Homo sapiens: one gene and its partner. The protein of the gene in region 1 interacts with the protein of each later gene in a pairwise test. Each region holds a gene or a part of one and is shown on either strand. Other genes may lie near its edges.

Region 1 (4,555 bases):
GAACCCCACAAACAACGGAAAGCAAATGAAGCCAGGCACAGAAAAAGTACATCCCATTTAATTCCATTTTCATCAAGGTCAAAACTAACCCATGGGGTTAGACACCAGGATGGTAGGTTCCTTTGGGGAGGAGGCAATGGGTAGGAAAAAACATTTATCTAGAATCTGAAGTTTAAAAAAATTAAAGTAGTTTCTCCTGCTGTGCTGCCTTTTTTTTCTGCTTTGCTTTTTCGAGGTAGGAAGTTCCAGGACAGGTAATATGTCTGAGGAAGCCTCCACCTCCCTCACCCTACTCACCCTTCTCCTCTGGGACCAGACAGGCAGGAACTCCAGGGAAAGCCCAACAAGGAGCTGTCCTAGAGCACTGATTTCATTTTGGCTTCAAGTAAGATTTTCACTAGCAACTCTGCTTTTCATCTCTTTTAAATTTTATTATTATTATTTAGCATTTTCTTATCTGTTACAATGTATTAGGCACTGTTCAAAGCGTGGCATTAGTATTAATATGTTACCCATTCATTCATTCAGCCTGCTGGAGACTTGGTAATGGCCTCTTTATTGAGAACTTACTCTGTGCCAGGTAGTAAGCTAAGTTCCCAATTAATCCTCACATGAGCTCTTCCTTGCCAGGCAGGAGAGAGGGGAAGATATCTGTTAGCATTACAGAGGAGTACACAGAGACTCAGAGAAGTCAAGTGCCTTGTCCAAGGTCACACAGCTAAGTCAGTAGCAGAGTTGGTATACAAACCCAGATTCCACATTACTGCAAAGCACCAAGCTCTGTCTTATCTAGTGACCACCCTCAAGCAAATCACGTTGTAAGACTGGCAGAAATACGAGGTTTCTTAGTTCCCTACCCTGGCCTAATGAATCAAAATTTCTGGCCCCTAGGCTGGCCTGAGCAGTAGAGTCCCCCACAGCAGTTCAAAACCTGATTCCGTCCCCGGACCCAGTAGGCACGCAGGGCCAAGCTGTTGGGTGGACGGAGGGGACGGGACTGCCGGGAAGGTCCCTCACTTCTTTCTGGCCCCTGGCAAATGTTATGTTCTCTCCTCTGAGAAGCCCTCCCTAACCATCCCTGGCCACCCCCCGCAACTGCTTACCCCTTTACTTTGCCTTAGGTGTCTTCCTCGCGTCTCTCAGTCTTATACGTGGGCTAGGTTGAACCATATGACATTGTCCTTTCTATAAATTAAAAAATGGTTGAAAATGGGGCATTTCATGCAGTCCAATTCAAGTGTTTCCCTCTACCAGAATGTCAGCTCCAAGACGGAGCTGGGAAGTGGTTCACAGCCGTGTCCCCAGACAACGCCTGGCACACAGTAGGCGCTCGATAAATGACAGGTGAGTGGCCGAGGGAAGGCGCCCACTTCGAGGAGTTCCGCAGCCTGAAGAAAGGCCCCGCCGAGCCGGAGGACCCCAGGGGACTCCGCCCTGTCCTCTGCAATCTCGGGTGCCTTCCCGGCCGCGACGATCGGGCGGGGTGGGGCTCGCCGTCATCCATTTACCAGCCTCGCCTCTCGGACGGGCGCGCCGTTAATGAGATTAGCAATTTAAAAACCAGCTAGCTGCGTCGGCGGCGGAGGCGCGGGGCCACCCCCAAGCCGAGCCGGGGTGGGACGGCGCGCCTGGCGACCGCGCACTGAGACTGCCGTGCCGGACCCCCGAGCCGGAGCCGAGCGCGCCGAGGCCGGGGCCATGGAGAAAGCGCGGCCGCTGTGGGCCAACTCGCTACAGTTCGTGTTCGCCTGCATCTCGTACGCCGTGGGCCTGGGCAACGTGTGGCGATTCCCGTACCTGTGCCAGATGTACGGCGGAGGTGAGTGCCCACCGCGCCCCGGCCCCAGCCCAACTCTGTGCGCGTCCCCGCCGTGTGTGCGAGCCGGGGTTAGACCCAAGTTACAGAACGGCACACTGAGGCCGGGAAAGCGAGCGTGATTTGTCCGAAGTTACAGACCCGGGAGTGTTCCCAGGACACCTCGTTCCGGAGCCGGAGCTCTCTCCCAAGCCGCCCTCCCAAGCCCTCGGGAACCCCTCGCCCCATCCCGGGGGCGGCCAAGCCCCCAACCCTCACCCTTGTTGGCCAGGCTGCGGCTCTGAGAGCGCAGGGGACGCGGTCTCCTTCTTCGAGAGAAGTGTCAATGGTCTGACGTCTTAGTGAGTAAACCTTACGTTTAGGTGTAAAAAGTGAGTAGGAAATTGTCTTATTCAACAGAAACTCGTTATACAACTTTCAGATCCGAAACTTAAATCAACGGTTTGAAACTCAGGTTAAGAGAATCTTGAGCCATTTCTTTAAATTTTTTATAAGGAGATTGGTTTGAGTTTGGAACGACAGAAAGCAGGAAATGCAAATCATTCTGTTTTGTTTTGTTTTTCTTAAATAAATGTTTCCTCCGAAGCATCATGCACGCTCCGGGGACAGCCAGCCAGCCACGCGCTCTTACCGCACTCCCCTAGCGTTGCGGAAAGCTGGGAACACCTTCTACACATGTCTATAACCTCGTGAAGCCCAAGTACCTTTTTGGAAGGCAATGTGGCAAGAGGGATTTAAGTCTCAGCATCTAAAACACTTTTTTTCTCGGTTGTCTCGTTTCTAGAATTGTATCTAAAGGAAATTGTCAGAGTTCTGACAGAGGTAGAAGGATGGTCACCATCATTTAATAAGAGCAAAACATTGGCAACTTCCTAAGCCCTCAAATAAAGGGGATTGGTTCAGTAAATTATAGAGCATCCATTCAAGGTTGCTCTTCGCAGCCTTTAAGGCGGCATTTTCAAAAAAAAAATTGTATTTTCTCGTATCCTGTATTAAGTGGAGGGAGGAGAAATCAGATTCAAAGCTATATAAAATGGATTTGACATTTTAAAACAATTACTTAAAAATATGCAGAGAAAAGAATGGGGAAAAGACATCAAATTGTTAACAAAATTTCTGGGTGATTTTTGTTTACCTTGTCGTGTGTGTGTGTTTTTGTGTGTGTATGTGTGTGTTTGTGTATTAGGACTTCTATAATTAGCATGTTTTTTTCACCATAAAAGATCATGGAAGATGTTAGACCAAAGTATTTACGAAAATGAACCCATTTGAGAAGACCAAGAGCTAAACACTGCTCCCTCCTCCCCTTACCCCAAATCAACAAAAGGTTAATTCATAGAGTTTTTAAAACAGTGCATTCTTAATTTCCTGATTCCTTTTTAAAATTTGAAGTGCATAAATACACCATAATGATGTGAAGGGCATATGTTGCCATATGCTCTAACAGCATTACCATGTGCTCTAACAGCTCTATAACTGACTCTTAAAAAGAATTATTTGTCAGAATGAGATTTCCACATCATTCTGTGCTCAGTAGACCTACCCATGATACCTTTATCCTGGGTACATGTTTCCCAGTCATCAGTCCAGGTGAGCCTCACTGTCACATGACTACTTAATTCCTTGTTTATAATACCACCATCACCTGAATAGTCTGCAGAGGGATGCATGTGGGGCTGATAGTTCTGGAGTTGAATATGTATCAAGGGGTTGCTAGGGAAACCTCAAGACCCTCAGGTTCCAAGAAAAAGAAACAAGAAGTAATCCTGTGCCTGGTGCAGAGGATGCTTCGGCTGGATGGGTGGATAGATAGATGAGTGGAAGCCGGACGGAGCATGGATTGGTGGCTGGGTGTATGCATGGATTAGTGGGTGCACAGACAAAAGGAGGGTGTGGGTCTGGTGGATGGCACCCTGTCAGCCACATGTCTACAGAATAAAGACCGAACAGTCCACTTGGCACCGTAGGCACTTGACCACCTAACTTGACCACTTGTCCAATATTTCCACCTCATTTCCTGCCACACAGCTTCAAACCTCCTCCTGCCTTCCAAACACTTCCATGAGCACCTCCTTCTGTGCCTCAACCCTTCACACAAGATATTTCCTCCACCTGAGAGGCTGTTGTTGCTGGGAGAACTCCCACCATTCCCTCCAGGTGGGACCAAATATTGCTTTCTCTCCGTTGTGCTCTCTGACTCTCCTCACTACTTCACAGGCCACATAAGCACTTGGTCAGAAGAACTGCACATTGTTCTTCAGTTTCTCTGTCTCCGCCCGGCCCAACCTCTGTGATGTGATGGAGTCACAGGAGCCATCCAATAAATATTTGTTGAGTGAATGAGCAAGGTATTAGGAAAAGCCACAGAATAAATGACGCTAGAGGATGCTAGAGGCTTTCCCAAGCCTTTCACTGCACAGTAAAGTCACCTTTAAGAAGTGATTTGTGTTGCCCCAAACCCAGGCAGTTTACAACCCATCCCTTACCGGAAGGTAAAAATCAGCCACATTATGAAAGGCTGCAGAGGGGTGTATAACTTCCTTGTAAGCAGAGCTGCAAATACCCCCAGCAAACAAAGAATTTGTTTATAAACCACAGAGCCAGGCTGTGCCAAAATACTTCCCAGAATAAGACGGATTAGGGATCTGTGCCCCTCTCCATGGGACTCTGCCCGTGACTGGAGAGGCTTGTTTCCTTCCTGCTCCCCAGGCCAGGCCCGGCCCGGCATGAGGAATGTTA
Region 2 (3,814 bases), on another chromosome or scaffold:
TGATAAGGATCCACTGAGTCTTCTGGTTAGGGTCATATTCCTACTGCAAGTGGCCCTTACTGAGCTGAGAGATGTCATTGCCACAGGGAGGACCTATAGGCACATGTAGGTTGAATGAAACTCTAGTTCCACTTGGCAGCCCAGACAAGGGATGGGTCAGTGAGCAAGGCTCTCTTCCTAGTCTCAGGCCATGCCTGTGGCGCCCTAATCCTACTCTCATGACACTGGACCTGGGCAGATGTGACAAATTCACGCAACTCTGATTTTGTCTCAATTTTGTAGATCTTGTAGATTTCATCCTTCACTCTAATTTCAGCGTCTAAAATCCTCGCTACCATGAACAATCTGAGTATTTGATGAGACAGGGCTGAATAGTGCAGTTTTTCTCCTAGCAACCATTTGGGGGTATTTGCTTTAAATCGATTGGAAAAATATGGCATAACCATTTGCACAAACTTGGGACAAATGATATTGGGATAACGATCTACCAGAATAGGGAATTTTACCCACAGTTTCTGGGACAAAAACCAAGGAATCTCTATGGTGATCAGCCTTCAGGCCTCCTGAAGAATATCTCTCACAGTGTCCTATTCTCATGCTGAGGAGCCTGAAGTCTCTGTGTGAGGATTAGACAGTGGATTGTTATGTGTGTAGGAGAACCAGCTTCATATATCTGTCCATGTCTGAACTTATTGCAGAAATTGAAAAGTACCAAGAAGTGGAAGAAGACCAAGACCCATCATGCCCCAGGTAACTTTGAGCAATTATGGATGCTTAATTCTGTGTTGACACCTGGAGATGCCAGGTCCAGGGAAAACAAGAGTGTGTTCAATTTCATGTTTTCAACGAAGGTTGAATTACTCCTACTGACATGGCTGTTGGTTTTCATTGCAGTAGATGTTTAGGTTTCCATTTCTTCCTCCCCTTATCATTTACTAACTTACTATAGGTTGACCATACCTCAAAGGCTGTATGGCAACTGCATGGAATCTTGAGCAAGTTTATGGAAAATTATTGAGCCCACTCTTTTCATGATCACTGTTCGCTGTGTGTCCCGAGGGCACTAACTCAGAGTGTCCTTTGACCCCTTCATCAGTGTGTCACCCGGCCAACTCGCTGAGCTCACTTTCTCCTCTCTCTCTCTCTCTCTCTCTCCCTCTCCCTGTCTTTCTCTTTCATTCTTCTCTACCTGGCCCTGGTCTATCCCAACATAAAGGCAATAATTCATTACCTCATTAATGGATCTGTCCTTTTTCTTTTTAAACAGTTCCTTATGTTAGCCATGAAATCTAGCTGGGGCTGTGTGGTTTCTGATTCCCCCTGGCTTATTCTTTACTTTTTCCTACTTTTCCAGGCTCAGCAGGGAGCTGCTGGATGAGAAAGAGCCTGAAGTCTTGCAGGACTCACTGGATAGATGTTATTCGATTCCTTCAGGTTATCTTGAACTGCCTGACTTAGGCCAGCCCTACAGCAGTGCTGTTTACTCATTGGAGGAACAGTACCTTGGCTTGGCTCTTGACGTGGACAGTGAGTACCTTACTATGAAGGTGATAAGCCTCCACCTGGTCTTCCAGATAGGGGTGATATTCCTGTTCCAAGTGGCCCTTACTGACCCGAGAGATGTCATTGCCGCAGGCAGGACCTGTGGGCGCATATAGGTTGTAATGAAACTGTAGTCTCAGTTGGAAGCCTAGACATGAAATGGGTCAGTGAGCAAGGCTCTATTCCTAGTCTCCAGCCATGCCTGTGGCAACCTGAGCCCGCTCTCAGCACATTGGACCCAGGCAGATGCAAAAAATTCACAGAACTATGATTTGGACTCAAGGGTTTGTAGATTTCCTCCTTCATTCTAATTTCAGTGTCTAAAATTCTTGCATCCATGAACGAGCTGGGCATTTGATGAGACAGGGCTGAATACTGCAGTTTTCCTCCTAGAAATCATCTGGGGCATTTTCTTTGAACTGATGGGAACAATAAGGCATAACTGTTTGCACAAACTTGGGATAAGTGATTTTGGGATAACGATCTACCAGAATGGGGATATTTCACCCTTGGTTCTGAGATGCAAACCAAAGAATATCATGACCAGCTTTCAGGCCTCCTGAAGTATATCTCTCACATTGTCCTGTTCTCATGCTGAGGAGCCTGAGATCCCTGTGTGGGGATTAGACAGTGGACTGTTATGGGTGTAGGTGAATTGGCTTATTTTGTCTGTCCCTGTCTGAATGTATTGCAGGAATTAAAAAGGACCAAGAAGAGGAAGAAGACCAAGACCCACCATGCCCCAGGTAACTGAGCAATTGTGAACAGCTACTTCTGTGTTGACATCTGGAGACTCCTGGTTCAGGGAAAACAGAGCGGGCTGACATTATCGATTACATCTTTTCAAGCAAGCCTGAATTATTCCTACTAACATTGCTGTTGGTTTTCATTGCAGTAGATATTTAGGTTTCCATTTCTTCCTCCCCTTATCATTTACTAACCTACTGTAGGTGGACCAGACTTCAAAAACTGTATTCTCATGGCGACTGCATGGAAACTTGAGCACATTTTATGGAAAATTATTGAGCACAGTCTTTTCATGATCACTGTATGCTGTGTGTCCTGAGGGCACTAACTCAGAGTGTCCTGTTACTCCCTCATCAGTGTGTCACCTGGACAATTCACTGAGCTCGTTCTCTCTCTCTCTCTCTGTGTGTGTGTGTGTGTGTGTGTGCGTGTGTGTGTGTGTGTGTGTGTGTCCATCTGTCTTTCTCTTTCATTCTTTTCCATTTGGCCCTGTTCTGTCCCAACATGAAGGCAATAATTTGTTACCTCATTAATGGATCTATCCTTTTACTTTCTTAACCACTTCCCTATGCTACCCATGAAACCTAGTTGGGGCTCTGTTGTGTGTGATTTCCCCTGGCTTATTCTTTACTTTTTCCTCCTTTTCCAGGCTCAGCAGGGAGCTGGTGGAGGTAGTAGAGCCTGAAGTCTTGCAGGACTCACTGGATAGATGTTATTCAACTCCTTCCAGTTGTCTTGAACAGCCTGACTCCTGCCAGCCCTATGGAAGTTCCTTTTATGCATTGGAGGAAAAACATGTTGGCTTTTCTCTTGACGTGGGAGGTGAGTACCTTTCTATGAAGGTGATAAGCATCCACTGAGTCTTCCATATAAAGATCATATTCCTGCTCCAAGTGGCCATTACTGAGCTGAGAGATGTCGTTGCCGCAGTGAGGACCTATAGGCACATGTAGGTTGAATGAAACTCTAGTTCTACCTGGAAGCCCAGACAAGGGATGGGTCAGTGAGCAAGACTCTCTTCCTAGTCTCAGGCCATACCTGTGGCGCCCTGATCCTATTCTCATGACATTGGACCTGGGCAGATGTGACAAATTCAGAGAACTATGATTTTGACTCAAGGGTTTGTAGATTTCCTTTTTCACTCTAATTTCAGTGTCTAAAGTCCTCACAACCATGAACAATCTGAGTATTTGATGAGACAGGGCTAAATATTGCAGTTTTTCTCCTAGAAATCATTTGAGGGTATTTGCTTTAAATTGATTGGAAAAATATGGCATAACTGTTTGCACAAACTTGGGACAAATGATATTGGGATAACGATCTACTAGAATAGGGACATTTTACCCACAGTTTCTGGGAGAAAAACCGAGGAATTTCTATCATGACCAGCCTTCAGGCCTCCTGAAATATATCTCTCACAGTGTCCTATTCTTATGCTGAGGAGCCTGAGGTCCCTGTGTGAGGATTAGACAGTGGATTGTTATGTGTGTAGGGGAATCAGCTTAATGTGTCTGTCCATGTCTGA

Evidence for each region.
Region 2: the proteins of SLC6A20 (region 1) and NBPF19 interact in a two-hybrid assay, tested with the Homo sapiens proteins (one large-scale study listed by BioGRID).

Annotation. Positions count from the first base shown.
Region 1 is NC_000003.12:45,793,563-45,798,117, reverse strand, and holds the start of SLC6A20 (sodium- and chloride-dependent transporter XTRP3), read left to right. Parts: upstream 1-1,581; 5' UTR 1,582-1,698; coding exon 1,699-1,819; intron 1,820-2,074; exon of another isoform or gene 2,075-2,219; intron 2,220-4,555. UniProt on the Homo sapiens protein: Mediates the Na(+)- and Cl(-)-dependent uptake of imino acids such as L-proline, N-methyl-L-proline and pipecolate as well as N-methylated amino acids.
Region 2 is NC_000001.11:149,502,480-149,506,293, forward strand, and holds part of NBPF19 (NBPF family member NBPF19), read left to right. Parts: intron 1-698; coding exon 699-750; intron 751-1,354; coding exon 1,355-1,527; intron 1,528-2,236; coding exon 2,237-2,288; intron 2,289-2,938; coding exon 2,939-3,111; intron 3,112-3,814.